Linked DNA regions of Homo sapiens. The main gene of each other region encodes a partner of the protein of the gene in region 2 in a complex. Each region holds a gene or a part of one and is shown on either strand. Other genes may lie near its edges. A codon is read from its position in the direction of its gene.

Evidence for each region.
Region 1: the proteins of TES (region 2) and ACTL7A are in contact, whole or in part, in a crystal structure (PDB 2XQN), measured with the Homo sapiens proteins. Residues at the interface, in NP_056456.1 of Homo sapiens: Asn311, Glu312, Tyr313, Thr314, Gln315, Ala316, Glu317, Leu323, Phe326, Leu335, Ala336, Gly337, Glu338, Ile339, Tyr340, Val341, Tyr353, Pro370, Glu371, Val372, Gln373, Arg374, Val375, Thr376, Tyr377, Ala384, Phe389, Leu398, Ile399, Gly400; in NP_006678.1 of Homo sapiens: Leu28 (codon at 2,445), Gln29 (codon at 2,442), Thr30 (codon at 2,439), Ala31 (codon at 2,436), Ser32 (codon at 2,433), Leu33 (codon at 2,430), Arg34 (codon at 2,427), Asp35 (codon at 2,424), Gly36 (codon at 2,421), Pro37 (codon at 2,418), Ala38 (codon at 2,415), Lys39 (codon at 2,412), Arg40 (codon at 2,409), Ala41 (codon at 2,406), Val42 (codon at 2,403), Trp43 (codon at 2,400), Val44 (codon at 2,397), Arg45 (codon at 2,394), His46 (codon at 2,391).

What each region holds. Positions count from the first base shown.
Region 1 is NC_000009.12:108,856,920-108,864,848, reverse strand, and holds ACTL7A (actin-like protein 7A), read right to left. Parts: upstream 2,584-7,929; 5' UTR 2,527-2,583; coding exon 1,219-2,526; 3' UTR 1,093-1,218; downstream 1-1,092. UniProt on the Homo sapiens protein: Essential for normal spermatogenesis and male fertility. Required for normal sperm head morphology, acroplaxome formation, acrosome attachment, and acrosome granule stability.
Region 2 is NC_000007.14:116,205,047-116,213,948, reverse strand, and holds the start of TES (testin), read right to left. Parts: upstream 3,411-8,902; 5' UTR 3,242-3,410; coding exon 3,215-3,241; intron 1-3,214. UniProt on the Homo sapiens protein: Scaffold protein that may play a role in cell adhesion, cell spreading and in the reorganization of the actin cytoskeleton. Plays a role in the regulation of cell proliferation. May act as a tumor suppressor. Inhibits tumor cell growth.

The DNA.
Region 1 (7,929 bases), on a different chromosome or scaffold from region 2:
CTCAAGTCACAGTTAGGTGGTAGCAAAATTGCGTTTCAAACCACAGAGTCCAGAGCCCATGTTCTATCCTCTGTTTTGTGCACCAACTAGTGTTCAGATTTTGAACTTTAAAGACAAGACAGAGAATGTATTGGAGGCTGTTCTAAAGAATCTCCAATTTAAAGTGCTCATATTACAAACTCCCCCTGCAGGAACACCAGAGAGCTCGCTGGGCCCTGGAAGGGCTTCCCTGGCTACTGAGGGTCTCTGTGTATCTTTGGGCTCCCCAGTGGGGTTAGAATGACCCACATAGGGCAGCCTCCCACAGACCCATATCATCAGCCCCAGAACCAGCAGCCTCTATCCTCAGCACACCCCAGACTCCAACCGTGTGTGTTCTAGGCTGATGGAGAATCCAGTCTGCTGGGAGATGGTCAGCTACTACTTGAAGTGTCTAGAGAATGACTGTGGCCTCAATCCCTAACCTCTCTGCTGATAACCCAAGATCAGTCTTACTTCAGTTTTTAAAATGGGAAATCTGTATAGCACTTGTTCTCTGAAGAGTTGCCCTTTAAGGCACATACAAATGCCTTGCTTGTAATATGCTAGGCTTCAGCAGCCAGTCGCTGTGATGGCTTAGTAAGAACTGGTACTGAGACATAAATGACTGTTGGAACTAAAAGAAACTCCTGTTAAAGCAGGGCTCAGACAGCTTTGCCAGCTCTTTCCAGTCCCTCAGGGTTGTTGATGAAGTATGAAATGGACACTGATGCTTTGTGGGAGTTTGCACTGTTACAGCATACTTCCTATTGGCATTTATGGAAAGGGAACTGCTTATATGCCCCAACAGCATTTACCCTCTAATCTTCATTGCACTCCCCCTTCCAAGCAGAGTTTAACCGTAAAGTAGTTCCTAAAGCGGGGAATGCACAAAATAAGGGGCAGCATAATTTTAGAACAAGTGAATGTTTAAGCAATCCACATACAATGCATGCCCTTTTTTGTTCATCCTCCCCCTACTCCTGCTTTTGTTTTGGGAAATGTATATTTTAAGGCAGACGCTGCACGTGTGAAGTTGTTTCTTATGAAGTCAGGAAGTAGAGAAACACACTGTGGAGGGGCATATGAGGGGTGTTTAATGCTACAGGAATAAGCGCCGGCTCCACCCCCTGTGTGTAGGAGTGCGCTCACCCTGTCGAGGGTAGGCACTGCCAGTGCAGTGTCCATCCTCGTCGCTGTTCAGAAGCACCTTCTGTAGAGGAAGAAAGGCCCGTGTTCCTCGTACTCAAAGCGGTGGACCCACAATGGTTGGAAACCCTGAAGTGAGGCCAGGATGGAGCCACCGGTCCACACGGCACTGTCTCTTTCAGGCAGCACGTTTACCTGCGGGGTGTCATTGGGACACATGCTGCTTAGCTCCTTCTGCAGACGGTTAGGGAAGCCACTGAGCATCGTGCTGCCCCCGCAGAGCAGGATGTTCCCCATGAGGTCCCGTTTGAGGGCGATGTCACACTTGTTAAGGCAGGACACGGTTTGGGTGTGGAGGCCCAGCTGCATGGACTTGATGAGAGATGGCTTGAAGAACATCTCCGAGCAGAGGAACCGTTCCTGGCACAGCTGAATCTCCTTCCCATCCGGCAGCACGTAGCGGATCGTATGCTCACTGAGAGGGACTTTCTTCTCCTCAATGGGATCCAGGGCCACAAAGCAGCATTTCTTCTTGATGTCCTCCACGATGCCCATCTGGTCCTGGGTGAATTCGTTCCCCGCACTGTTCAGCAGGCCCAGCAGGTAGGCTGTCAGGTCAGAGCCCGCGTAGTCCAGCCTTCCGGTGATGCTGGGCAAAGGATAACCCTCGTAGATGGGGACCACGTAGGACACGCCATGGCCCACCTCCACCACCAGGCCGGAGGTCCTTCCATAGGAGTACATGGACAGGCGCGACTGGTAGGCGATGTGCATTGCAGGGGTGTTGAAGGCTTCAAACAGCATTTCAGCATATTTCTCTCTGTTGGTGTGTGGGCTCAGTGGCGGGTCTGAAACCAAGACCGCATGCTCCTCCGGGGCGATCTTCATCTCTTGTCGGAAGAGATATTCCCAGATATCCTGCACTGTATCCCAGTCCACGATGATGCCATGTCGCAGAGGGTTAACCAGCTTGAGATGAACGTTTGTGTTGTTGAGTTCCTGCCCCACGAATGTCTCCTTGCGATTATCCCCAGTCTTGGCGGTCTCCATGTAGGGCTTGCCCACCGTTGTTGAGATCTTGTGGGTGGGTCTTGGCAGGCCGGCAAAGCCACATTTACAGTAGCCAGTGCCCAGGTCCACGACCACTGCTTTGGTCACCTCCTGCTTGGGCCTCTCCTTGGCTGCCTTTGATTCAGTAGGTTCTTGTGGCTCTGAACTCGTATGGCGGACCCACACGGCCCGCTTCGCCGGGCCATCCCTTAAAGAGGCAGTCTGGAGGGCCTGTGTCTGCAGGGGGGCCTGGTTGCCCACCTTCTTGGTGGGCCCATCCCCCATGATTGCTGCTGGTGGAGCCCACATGTTGTCAAGAGCCGCACCACTCTTAGAAAGTTCTCAATCCCACTGGATTCAAGGCCTGAAAGGCCTACATCAGAGGATACCCTGAGAATTTTCCCAACAGTGACATCACTAATTATGATGTAATCTGGTGACCTGGGCTTTCTAGATATTGCAAACCCTTATCCTGTGTTAGGGTACATTTGGGATATTGTTTTTGAAATGGCTCCCCTTTTCCTAAATTTCGTAACAAGACTGATTTATTCAATTAATTAATATTTCTTGAATGTCTGCTATATACAAGGCAGCTGGGAATTCGCTGGTGAAAAAAACAGACAAAATCCCTTATTCTAGTCGGTGGCGGGTGGGGGTGACAGACAATAACCAAAATGAGCGTTAAGAGCAAAAGCAGGGTGGCAGTGCTAGTGTGGCCTGGGCAGGGCTTCCTGAGAGGGTGACATTTGAATGAAGACCTGCAGGAGGTGAGGGAGAGAGCCATGTGTATGTCAGGGGAGCAGCAGGTGCAGAGGACTGGAGGCAGATGTGTGACTGAAGAGTTAGATCAGGGGTCAGCAGGCTGCAGTCCAATCCGGTCCCCGGCTTGTTGGATAGGAATACAGCCGTGCTCATTCATGTACGTATTGTCCGTGACTGCCATTGCAGTACAACAGTAGAGCTGAGTCACAGCATTGAAGACTGCATTGCCCAAAAAGCTGAAAGAAAGTAAATACTGACTGACCCTTAAAAAGTTTGCCGACCTCTCGAGTTAAAGGAGGAGCAGGAAGAAAAGTGTGGCTGGCATAGAAGGAGTAAGGAAAAGTAGATGAGATGGGGTGGGGGAAGGCAAGCAGCTCATGGTAGGCCTCATAGGCCAATGCAAGGATCGTGGGTAAGGTCAGAAAGCACTAGAGGATTTGGCACAGAGCACTGACACCATCTGATTTAGATGTTAGTGGGAATCCTTTGCTGCTATGGTGACTAAGGGCACTAAGGGTGACCCTTAGAACAACCTTAAGGGGAATTATTTTTGGATATACATGTGTACACTTACTGTGCCTTCATCAGGGTCATTGGCTAGACAGTGAAATTAGACTCTACAAAATCCCACTGACAACACTGAGGCTTTTAGGTGCATAGCTCACCCAAGGATATCCAACCAGGAGTAGCCAAGCTCTCCTGACTGTGGCTTCCTCCCCAGGATGTGCTGGGACACAGCTTGATGGGACCTAGCGTGCAACTCTTAGGCTGTTTGGCCACCATCTTGCATGCCATTTCTGAAGCTGGACACATTGGTGTGGATGCCTGCCACACTCAGGGCAGAATCCAACCTTATGTTATGCCACACCCTGAACCTGATCCCAGCCCTTCATAAAAGAGGCAGTCACCACAATAATGGGCTTTCTCCTTTAGAGAGGCTACGGGAGTTGCTCTCAGTTCCTTGTTGGGTATGAGAGAAGAAAAGGACCAAGTCCAGTCTCATGAGGTTTGTGGTGACTATCTGATGGGGGCAGCAAGGTGTCATCCCAAGGACAAAATCTCAGTTTCTTGCTTCATTGGTTAGTGGGTGAGATAATAGCATGGAATTTTAAAGGAAAAATAGGAAAGTACTTTTGATGCCTGGCTGCCTGAAAAACAGTTTAATTGCCTCTGCCGTTCAGGGATTTGCGTGGGCAACTCAGATTGTTTGACTTTATTTCAAAAGTGCTGTATATGGTAACCAAAGGCATATGTAATTTAAAACCCTCCATTTTTTTCTTCCCAAACCCTACTTGAATGTTGCGAAATCTATAGCTGCTTGGTGCCTTTTCACTAACCTGGACTCCTAGAAGAGCCTGTATTAGCTTCCTGTTTCTGCTGTAACAAATTACCATGGATTTAGTGGCTTAAAGCAATTCACAGTTATTATCTTACTATTTTGGAGGTCAGAAGTTCGTAATTCTTCTTAGTGGGCTACAATTAAGGTTCTTTCAGGGCTGTATTCCTTCTGGAGGTGTAGGAGACAATACTTCCTCTTGCCTCCAGCTCCTAGAGGCCACCTGTGTTCCTTGGCTCATAGTCCCTTCCTCCATCTTGGAAGACTCTCAGACTAGAGCTGTCATTGTCACATCTGCTTCTCTGCCCTTGACCCTCCTGTATCCCCCATATAAGGACCCTTGTGATTACATTGGCCCCACCCAGGCCATACAGGATACTCTCCCCATCTCAGATTCCTTCATTTAATCACATCCACAGAATCCCTTTTGGCATGAAAGTTAATATAGTCACAGGTCCCAGGGATTAAGATGTGGACACCTTTGGAGGACCCTTTCACCTGTTCAGTGCCTCCCTCTTTGCTAATACACTCCAAGCCTGACATGCTCTGACTCATTTGCTCTTCGTGGGCTGCCCAGGCTTGCCCATCTGTCATCTGTCATCACACTTTCTGCATTTGTGTGTGGAAGAGGTGATGCTTTAGTGTAAGGCAGTCACTCTATCTAGTCTGTAAGGTCCTTGAGCATAGGGATTCCCCTCACATTCTCTGAGCAAAAGCCAATGAAACACTTGCCCTCCTTTTACTTCACCACTGAGTTTCACATGTTGGGTGCTCCTAATAAAAACCCTGTTTCCCCTAAGCTTCCTGTTACCCTCTGTGCCTCTTCTCTCCCTCTATGGGTCATCACACGGTTAGTGGTAATGATGGAAGAATGCAGAGACTGTGGACACCGTGCCCCAAACCTCCACTGCCTAGCACACACACCCCCCATAATTGTCACCAGCTAAGGTCTGTGTGGGCCCTCTGGGGTCCCTAGTGAGGTCCCTCTTGGGAGAGGCACCCTATAGTGCTCAAAATATATTGGGCCACATTTTCTAATGGGATCACACCTACTTTTAGCCCTCTGGCTCAAGACCAAAAAAACCATGGGATGACCCCTTTTCAAATGCAACCCTGGGATCCTCTTCTATAGTGGAGGGAGAGAACATGGAAAGGTGAGATTAAAGAACACACTTCTGCCTGAGGTGCATCCTGGCTCCTGGCTTCAGTTTTGGGACACTGCCCACCCTTGACCTTTGGAGGAGAGGTGAGCCAGGCCTCTGGAATTTTAGCAGCAATGGGAGGGAAAAAAAGAAAATCCAGCATGGCATTTCTTCTCATGAATCACCTGGAGTTTTTCTTAAAAATTACTGGAGCCCACCACAGCCTTTCCAACTCTTGAATATGCTGGAGAACCCCTGAGTCAGGAGCTCCCAACAAAGAAGATCCTTGCCAAACAGGCACTTTGAGCTGCTTTCTCACAGCTCAGATCCCAGTGTGGACACCCAGGTCCCAAGACTGTGTCCATTTCCCCGAGGTGGAAGGGAGAGGAGCTGTCTTCAGGGGCAGATGTGCTACTGAGCATGCAAATGTGGATCCGGATGCTTCCCTTTCCATGTGCTCCAGCCCAGTGTCCCACAGCCTAGTGACCTTTGGGCATCTCTAAGTCAGCAGACCCCAAATGTGAGTGTGTGTGTGTGTGTGTGTGTGTGTGTGTGTATGTGTGTGTGTCACCATCATCCACTTAGCAGCTCAAGGCAGAGACCTGGAGGCTGTGGGTAGGGGTCAAGTTGACGAGGGGACATAGCAAAATGGTAATCACATTCAAACAACATTTCAAGTAGTTTACCCAAAGTCATACAGATTATAAATAATAAGTCTATGTTTGAACCCAGGTCTTCGGAATCCAGTTCCTCAGTCTTCCATCTGCTCTGTACTGCCTTTCTGTAAGGAATGGATAAAAAGTAGGCTCTGGCAGTCCATGAATACTGCCTTTAAATAGCCTAAGAGTTGTCGTGGAAGAATTTGCTTGCCCCGTAGAACTTCAAGAGTAGACCCAAGACCATTTAATGGCTTCAGAGAGGTACACATGCCAATCCAGTGTGACGAAACGTTTATCACTCATGGCTGGCCAAAATAGGGTGAGCTGTCCATGTCAGACTACTGGATGGAATGTTCTAGAAGGAACTGAAGGGTCCAATCCTCAGCTTCTGTGATTTCATGATCCCACCACAGGGCATTTCTGGGTCATGATGTTCATAATTATAACCCTTAGAAAGTTGTTACCCAAATAATATAGTTGAATGCTGCCATGTTCCAAGAAACAATTCAGCGGGCTGGGCATGGTGGCTCACACCTGTAATCCCAGCACTTTGGGAGGCCAAGGCGGGCGGATCACGAGATCAGGAGTTCAATGTCAGCCTGGCCAACATGGTGAAACCCCGTCTCTACCAAAAATACAAAAATTAGCCAGGCGTGGTAGCAGGTGCCTGTAATCCCAGCTACTGGGGAGGCTGAGGCAGGAGAATCGCTTGAAACTGGAAGGCGGAGGTTGCAGTGAGCTGAGATCGCGCCACTGCACTCCAGACTGGGCGAAAGAGCGAAACTCTGTCTCAGAAACAAACAAACAAACAAAAATTTGGCAAACAAAAATCCCCACACATTCCTCATTAGCATTCTTACATGCTCCATGGCAGTATTTCTTAACTCTTTTTCCCCCATGCATGTTGCCTAATCAATTCCTCAGGCACCTCTGCTCATCTTAATTCTCCCAGAAAACTTCCTCAGGCCCAGTTGCCGCTCTTCCCCTTTTTCTGTTGACTCTTCACCACCAAAGCCCTAAACTGCCTTTTTGATTTTTGGAGTGGGAGGGGGCAGCTTAAGTTGCAGGTCCCTCTGGCACTCTCGTGAATTTGTCCTTTCTGGATGACAGGCCATCTTTCTTTGCCCGGGTACAAGTAAGCGATTCATCCTTCCCTCTGCCTCACATCCCACATCACAGGAGCCCATGAGGGAAGCCCTGAAATGTCAGAGTAAGAGCTTGGATTAAAGTGAGGGATGGTTGGGGAAAAAACAGATTGGATTCTATTCTACTTTCTAAGTTTCTCTAGAACTAGGCTCTTCCTTGTTTCCACACTCTCACAGCCCTAGGTCAGGCCACCTTCAAGTCTTATCAGAAGTTCTCCAATGGCCTCGTTTCGGGTCTCAGTTTCTAGTCTTGCCCCTCCCATCCATTCTCTACATTACAGCCCAATGCAGATCTTTCTAACATTTTTATTTTTCTTTTCTTTTTTTTTGAGATGGAGTCTCACTCTGTCTCCCAGGCTGGAGTGCAGTGGTGCGATCTCAGCTCACTGCAACCTTTGCCTCCCAGGTTGAAGCAATTCTCTGCCTCAGCCCCCCAAGTAGCTGGGATTACAGGCACCCGCCACCATGCCCAGCTAATTTTTGTATTTTTAGTAGAGATGGGGTTTCACCATCTTGGCCAGGCTGGTCTTGAACTCCTGACCTCATGATCCACCTGCCTCAGCCTCCCAAAGTGCTGGTGGGATTACAGGCATGAGCCACCACGCCCGGCCCTTTCTAACATTTTTCTAGAGGGCAAATCTGATCATTCCCCTGCTTAAAGTCTTCAT
Region 2 (8,902 bases):
GGAAAGAGGAAAACAGCTGGCTGTTGGCCATGATTTACCATTCACCGCAAAATGAGACTGTTTCTGCTTCTCAAAGTCCACTGTTTTTCCCAAGCAGACATGGACCATACTGACACAAAGCCAATTAAGATGAGACTTAAAAAATAAGAAAGAGGTCTAGATGTGTAACTCAGAAGACAGGGCAAGGACATAGAATCAATTCTGTTCTAAAGTATTATTAAAACAAAAACTTTGTATAACCAAACTAGCTCCCACATCCTAGCAACAGCTCGCTTTCTTCAAACAAAACAAAATATAGCAAAATCTAATTATAAAAACCCCTTGTCTTTGTGATGGTGGGTTTTAACTGGTAATTAATCCCAATTTGTACAACTGATGTGGACGAGCTTTCCTTTTACAAACCAAGAATTTTATAATAGTATCATCTATCTCAATCACTGTTTAATAAAGACAGTCCTCCTTAATTCTTTTTACATGAAATGTTAATGTGGAACAATGATGCTTTTCATCTGTCTGGAAGAAATTCCTCATGAAATCAACAATGTAAAAGTTTTAGAAGGAAAAAATGTCATACATCTTAAAACAGAAGTCATATTAGTTGTATTTAAATGGTTGTATCTTTGTTCCAACTTTTAATCTTCCTTTTCTCAAGGTACATTCAAACTATAAATTTTCTTGAATAACTGAGTCAAAAAGAAAGGAGACTTGAAAACTAGGTACCAAAATAGGGTGAGGACTCTGCTGGTAAATCAGATAGTCTTGTAATATTTCCTTCTTTGGACGTGTTAGAAAACAATTGCTAAAAGGAACATAAATTTCTTTTTGAGAGTATGGCTAAGATTGTGAAATACATTCCTGAGATTTCCAAATTTTGTACTGGGAAACTTTTTGTTAGACTATCAAGCCTATTAAGGGACTCACAAATTGGAGTCATACGGGACATCTCTGCGGTTTTTTAATAGCTTCCAATTTACCAGTTGAGGATTCTAAGAATCATCAGTGAAGACAACGTAGTGAAACAGGGATTTGTTATATCATGGGATTCTCTCTAAAACCTTTAATTTATGGAATTCTTTCTGGGGTGGTAGAGGCGGAGAAGAGGAGGATTAGAGAAAGTTAAGATTCTTGGTTGAAAATATAACTTTTAAAAGTAAAGTGGGGGATAAACGAGGAAAATTACACCATATGTCAAGGGCATTATTTATCATAATCCACATTTTCAAACTCTAAGGAAATTGTTTATAAACAACGTCTGGATTTTTCCTTTGCAAGCATATACAATTTTTAAGTTTGAACTTCTTCCCTCAGAATTACTCCTTGTCTCAAAAAGTTTCAAAAATGTCTTTGATTTTTCTCCCCCTATTAAACAGACTTTATTTTTAAAGCATTTTTTAGCTTCACAGCAAAATTGAGCAGAAAATTCGAAGTTCCCATGTACCTCCCCCATGCCTTCCTGTCTCCAGCAGCCTCCCGGACTACCAACAACCCGTATCAGTGCAGTACATTTGTTACAAGTGATGAAACACATTGACACATCATTATCCCCAACATACATAGTTTACATTAGGGTTTACTCTTGGTGTTCTACATTCTATGGATTTTGATTAATGTATAATTACATGTATCAGCCATTTTATAGTATCATACAGAATAGTGTCATTACCCTAAAAATCCTGTGCTTCACCTGTTCATCCTCGGCAGCCCAAAATATGTTTACTTTTGCAAAGTTGTCTTCAAATAAATACTTAAAAGCAAGGACAAGACCCCCCAAGTTTTAGACAAGTACTAAATTAAGTAGCTCTTACCTACTTGAAAACTAAATGAGAGTAGTATTCATCAACAGAAAGCTAAGCGGGCAAAATGCTTTCCCCGCTTTTCCCCCATGACAAGCAAGATTAACCAAAAATATTACAGTTATTTAAAAGAAAAAAAGAAAGAAACCAAATGGGAAGAGAATAGAATGCAATCACGCTACCATTAACAATTTATGTTTTTCTGTTCTTGGATACCTTTTTGAGTGCCTGAGAATTTTAGTCGCAAGGAATGAAAAAAACTGTTTTCTCATTTCGAGTTTTTATTGGTCAATAGCTTCCTAACCGAAAACTCTGCAGTCCTAACACAATATTTTGTATCCATTTTCAAAAATCCAGTTCTGGGCATAAAATAGAATTAATGCTCAAGTCAAAAACTTTGTGTTTAGAAGATAAAATATTAGGAACCATGAGTATGAGAAAAACAAAAACTGTTTTCTGTATTTTTCCCTTCCTCTCTCTGCAAAACTTCTCTATTTGATAAGGGACAGCTAGCTTAAATTTACCACAAAGTAAAACATGAGCAAATCCCCTGGAACGAGGAGAACTTTCGCACAGGGCAATTCACTCGAATGTGACATCAGCATTCCTTCTGAGTCATAGTCTGGTCCCCACCCTTTTCTCCCAGGCGACACCAGGCTCCGCATAACCCGGGAGTGGCTCAGGTAGGGCCGTCGGTTCCAGTGCCTGCGAGGCAGCAGCCAAGCTGAAAATGTCTCCCTGCGCTGAGACGCTGGTGACAACCGCCCTTTGGGACTACCTGCCAAACAAGGAGAATGCGCTCTTTGACAGATAATTCCCTAAGAGGGAGGCACTGCCTCGGTCGGTAGACAAGTAATGAATGACCGAAAAAAAAATCACATTAGAAGTTATCACCAGCACGGGTGCGAAGGCAGTGCATTAAATCAACACTCATTTTAGAGCGCCCCAGACAGCCCAGCCGGAAGGGAGGAGATCAGAGCTGTCAAAGCACAGCAGAGCCCCAAACCACAAAGGCTTAATGAAATTCAACTTCCTGAGCCAGGAAGTGTCACGGTCTCGCCCGCACTCGCCCTAAGCTCGTCCTTTCCTTTTGAGGAGGCACAGGCAGAGCTGAAACATCTTAAGTAAAGTTTCCAACACCTACAACCACTGGGATTCCGTGAGACTGGAGAGAAGAGTCCCGCGCCCGCCCTCGCTCGCGCTTCCAATTCTGTCGCTCCCGAGTGTGGGGAGCTGGCGGGGCCGCCGAGCACCTCCTCTACCCAGGGGGCCAGGTCCCTGGGCCCGGGGCACCGCAGACCCAGAGCCGGGCTCACACCGGGGGGCCCGCGAGCCCCACCCACCTCGGCACCTCCGGCCGCCGCGCGCCGCGCGACCCGCGCAGGTGAAGCAGCCGCCGCCCGCCACGAGCGCCCCCCTACCTTCTTCACTTTGTTTTCCAGGTCCATGTTAACGCGTCCTATGGGTCCCCTCCTCCTCCTATCCGGGATCCCACGGCCGGGTTCAGCTGGCCTCCGGCTCCGCTGCGAACACGGGAAACCTGCGGAACTCCCGCGGCGCCGCTCAACAGCCACTCGCCCGGCGCCGTCGAACTTCCGCCGCCCAGTCCGCCGCAGCGGGCCTGCGGCCCGGACCCGGGAACAAAGGGGGCCGGGCAGCCAATGGCAGCCGGGCAGCTCCGGGCCGCCGCCAATCACCGAGCGCCGCACGCACCTTCGCGGCCCGAGCGCGGCGCTGGCAAGGTGAGAGGCGGGGCGGCGTCCGAGGCGGCGCCCTGCTGGGCAAGCTCAGTGACCCTGACCTGGTCTCCGAAGGGATTCTCTGGGCGTCCACGGGCCGGCTTCTAAAGAGCTGGGATCCCCAGCCTCCCTCTAGCTGAAGATGGAGAAGAACTTTTTCCATTTGGCAATTTGTACCTGTGTTTGCCCAGGACTTTTTATTTGGGTCAAGGGGAATAGTTATCCCAATACTAACTTCTCAGTTTATTTTCAGGGTAAAGAGAGAAAAAAAAGAGAGAGAGAGAGATTGTAGGGATCGTTAGGGATTCCTGTGATGGACCTTGGGCACTAAATTCAATATTGCGTTGTGGAGATGCCCTTTCCTCAATTGCTTTTTTCCACAATCCCAAATACTGTCAAGAAACCGTATCTTACATCCCTAAAGTCAGCGAAGATTCTTAGATTGTTTTCTGAGCATTGGGTTGTTCAAAAGTAAAGATGATGTGAATCACTTCAGAAACAGGTTGTGTCATTCCTTTGGAAGCAGAGGGTTGCCCTTTGTCTCTGTGTGAGATGGTGCTAGGCCTATCGCGTGCTCAGGCTTTGATGAAGCAGAGTCATCACATTGGTGCACCAAAGCTGAATTCATTTCATGCCCTAATTCAGGAGCAATTGCATCTAATACCATCAGATTGGTCGGTCTGGAAGGGAGCCTAACGATTACTTAGTCTAGCTTCCTCACTTTGCAGGGAACTGAGGACTCCAGAGGTGCAGGGACCTGCCTAATGTCTTAGCCTGTTGGGGACAGAGGCATTGCTCATGAATCTAAACAACTTCTCAAAGATGTTTGGGGCTGGAAGCACAGCATGTTGACTAAGGAAAAAGAGCAGTCAATTTTCTTCAATTTGTGGTTATGGCAAAAAATAACATTGCCCAGACAGCAGGTGACCTAATTTGGCACCTACTTTTAAAAATAACAAAACAATATAAAACAAACAAACAAAAATTCCCTAATAATGCAGATATTCAGGTCCAGATGTATGTCTGCCTTGCCTCGAGAAATTTGGTAGCTAAAAATATCCAAAATTCATTTTAGCCAATACTTGCAACTCTGCTTACTTGATTATTTGTTAACACAGAGCATTGATTTATAATGTGCATGTTTCCTTTATCCTATTAAGAATTAAAACTGAAATTACCAAAATGAGTTATGCATTTTTCTTTTCAGCTGATGTAAAACTTTTCTGTGTCATTTTCCCAAACCACCTTGAAAGGTGTGGGCCCCTGCAAAGTCTGCCCGTTGTAAGTGTATAGGATCATGAGGTCTAGCTATGACAAGGCAATTTTGTTTCTTTCAGAGAGCTTAACAGATGGAAAATGTCCAGTAAAGCAATTTAAATAAGGCATCAAACAAATGTTGTAACATAAATTTTGGACCCTTATTTGATGAGGTTGCAGAGATGACACTAAGAAAACCATCTGGAAACTTTTTTTTTTTAACTGTCAACTTCTGCCTTTCTCCCATTCTTCCTTCCCAACCCTCTCAGCATTACATTGTGTGTGTGTATCATTGGCAAGGATGGAAATAGAAATTCAGTGAGTTTTATCTGGAATTATCACTGTGCCAATTATATAAAAATAATTATAGATTATGTATAAATTATAAAAATAAAATTGAGGTAGATAAGTGTTAAGAGAGTTAAATTGTAAGTTTTTGTTCAGTTATTCAGGTGTTAAGCTACAGTTATTAAGGAGGTAGAACTGGCATGGTTTGATGAGTACATGTAGTTGATGACAGTGGAATGAATAGAAGATGGCACACATTTCTATCTTGATCACCTCTATGGATAGCTCAGAAAGAGAGAAAATATAGGATGATGGTCAGGGTTTTGTTCAGTTGTGCATTCTTTGGGGCTGGTGGTGGACATAAAGGATACAACTTTTAATATATTGAGTTTGAGACTGAGACATTGAAATGAGTATCCAAATATACATCTTGAATGCTGATTTAGGAGTTCACATCCTACATAAATAAATAATTAAAGGCCAAGAAGTGAGATGAGCCTCGGAGACAGTAAAATAAAAGAGAAGAATATCAAAGACACCAAGTGAGCAAGGCTGAGCAAGAGAAACACATAAAAGAGATAAGGGCTAGATTAAGGGTAAGAAAAAAATTAGGAGTCAAATCCCTAAAAGCAAGAAAGGAAATTGAAGAAGAAATTAGTTAACAATGTCAAATTGTAGAAAAGGGTCAAATGCCCTTCGGATTTAACAAAAAGGAGATCATTGGTGACTTTGGAAAGTGCATTTTTGGTGCAGTTGTGGGGAAAGATATTACTTTATAATTTTATCTCCCTTTGTTTCTACCAGAGTGCTTTAGTCAATGTTGGACTTGACTTTTCCACAAAACTTATGGACACATCAGCCAAATAAATGCCCAACTCTGCTGTTTCAATCAAGTAGAGAGGAAATCAATATACTATACTGGATAATACTAAGGAATGGTCTTAAGATCTTTATCTTTAGAGAAGTAAATGAAAATACTAGATTTTACACATGTGTGCAGGCACACACAGAGAGAGAGAGACAGACAGAGACAGAGACAGAGGAGAGAGAGAGAGAGAGACTGAAGTTCTCTGTATAGGCCAAACAAAATATTTATTCAGGTTAAATTCAGTTTCTATGCTATCAAATTACAATATCCGATGAGGGAAATGTGTTAAACTTTTATGTACCCTTCATCACTGGAGAGATGTAAAAATACATAAGACATTCCCTTTGTTCTTAAGCAGTTTACAGATTAGTATGGGAGTAGCAGGTGTGTAAGAGTAATGAAATGTTACAGGTAGAGGGAAGCACACGTGAGAGTCAGGGAGAAGGTGGTATTGGGATTTGTAAAATCTTTAGAAAAGAGTAACCTTGGCTTAGTCTTGGAAGATGAATAAGTGTCTTAGTTAAAACTCTTGATTGCAAGTTATATTAGGCCGTTCTTGCACTACTATAAAGAAATACCTGAGACTGGGTAATTTATAAAGAAAAGAGGTTTAATTAGCTCACAGTTCTACAGGCTGTACAGGAAGCATACCTTCTGCATTGGCTTCTGGGGAGGCCTCAGGAAGCTTACAATCATGGCAGAAGGCAAAGTGGGAGAAAGCACTTCACATGGTAAAAGCAGGAGCAAGAGAGACAGAATGTGTTGGTGGGGGAGGATGAGGTGTGCCACACAATTTTAAATGACCAGCTCCCCTGTGAACTCAGAGAGAATGCTCATTTATTGCCAAAGGGATGGCCCAAGCCACTCATGATCCAAACACCTCCCATTGGGCCCTACCTCCAGCATTACGGATTACAATTCAACATGAGATTTGGGTGGGGACAAATATACAAACCATATCACAAGTAATAGTAACCCTCGAGCTAGTTTACTTTTAAAAAGATGGCATTTTATTTTAAGGATACAGAGGCTTGTTGCAAAACTCAAGGGCCAGATGCATCTGCGACTAGACCAGGCACTTGCCAACATCTGGAACAAGGAATCTACTCCTTCACTGGGGTTATGTGGTCTCTCATCTTGCTGCTTGGCCTCCATCAGCTTTAGTTCTTTCTCTTTGAAGACTCTGTTTTCCTGCACACATGGGCAACCAATAAAGGCAGTCTCAGCTCGTTAATTGACATCACCCTAGTTCAAGCAAAATACCCAGTTTGGGATTTCAACCCCTCTAACAAAAAGACTTTAAATAGCCCAGCTTGGATAAGCTTAAACTTCTGATTCAATTAGCTGAAGCTGGTGCCAGTTGAGAGACACAAAGGACAACACATAGACTAAAGCCCAAACTTATAGGTAGGACAAATCTCACAGAGAGGGAGTAATAAGAGTTTTCCAAATGCCTCCAAAGATATCTATCTCTGTTTCAGATGTTACAAGGAAATTAGCAAAGGAAGAGGCTTAGTAAGTACAAGCAGAAGATTTTTCTTTCTGTCGATATTGGAGAACTTTTTCCCTTGACTTTTATTATAGGTTTGGGAGTACATCTGCAGGTTTGTTACATGATTAAATTGCATGTTGCTGGGGTTTGGTTTACAAATGATTTCATCAGCCAGGTAGTGAGCATAGTACACAACTGGTACCTTTTTGAACCTCACCCTCCTCCCACCCTCTACCCTCAAGTAGGTACCATTGTCTATTGTTCCCCTCTGTGTGTTCTGGTGTACTCAATGTTTCTGAACATTTCAAAAACTATTTAAATTACAGAAACCCCACTTGGGCAAAAAGTTGTAGATGTTTATTTTATTGCTAGGAATGGGGGTAGATAATGAATAGGACAAGTCTAAAGAATGGAAGATTAATCAGGAGATTCTAGCTATAGCCCACAAGAAATATGATGAGGGCCAAAGTAAAGCAGTAGCAATGACTGTGGAGAGTTAGAAGGATTTATCAATGATATTAAACAGGTAGAAAATATTGGACTTGACTGATTCTTGAAAAGAGAGAGGATAAGGAATCCATTAGGATTCTATTTTCTATCTCTTAGGAATCTATTTTGGGTGACCAGTTTGGTGGATATAACACACACCTTAAGGCAGGAAACAAAAGTGGAGAAGAAAATTTGATTGAGAAAGATAATGGGTTTTGTTTTGTGTGTATTGATTTGGCAAGGCCAATAGGATATGAGTCTGGTGGACAAAAGAAACATCAGGGCTGAAGATACAGATGATGCTACATACACAAGTACACATACATAAACATATATACATATACACACATAAATACACATACGGAGTAAACACTACATATGCCAGGGAAAATAATTATTGAAAACTTTTCTATACTAGATGAGGTAAACATTTCAAGATGAAAATGATACACCTGTCTCATCAATTATTAATGTGGTCCCAGGAGGCCTCTTTAGAGATGTTAATCATTTATTAACACCTGTCATAGGAACTCCTTTGTGAGCCTGACACAGCTATTATTCCTCATTAGCAGGTTGTATAAGATTACAGGTTGTTCTCTAGGGATATTTTTTAAAGAAAATAGGTGCCAATGTAGCTTAGAGCAAACTAATATCCCATAACTTTTTTAATTGACCAAAAATTGGGGATTGACTAAGTAAATAATGGATGAGCCACATGACAGATTTAGCATAGTTACTGATCAATGATACTTAGGAATGTTTGTAATGGAAAACAATTATAATGTTATAAGAACAGAATATAATATGGAATTGTATATACAGTATGCTCACAGCTATACAAAAATACCATGAATAGAAAAAGAACATGAGGGAAATACACTAAAATGTCACCCGCAGTTTGCCTTTGATTGGTGGGTCCATGGGGATTTCTTTCCTCCTTTTAAAAATATTCCATGATTAGTATGACTATTTTAAA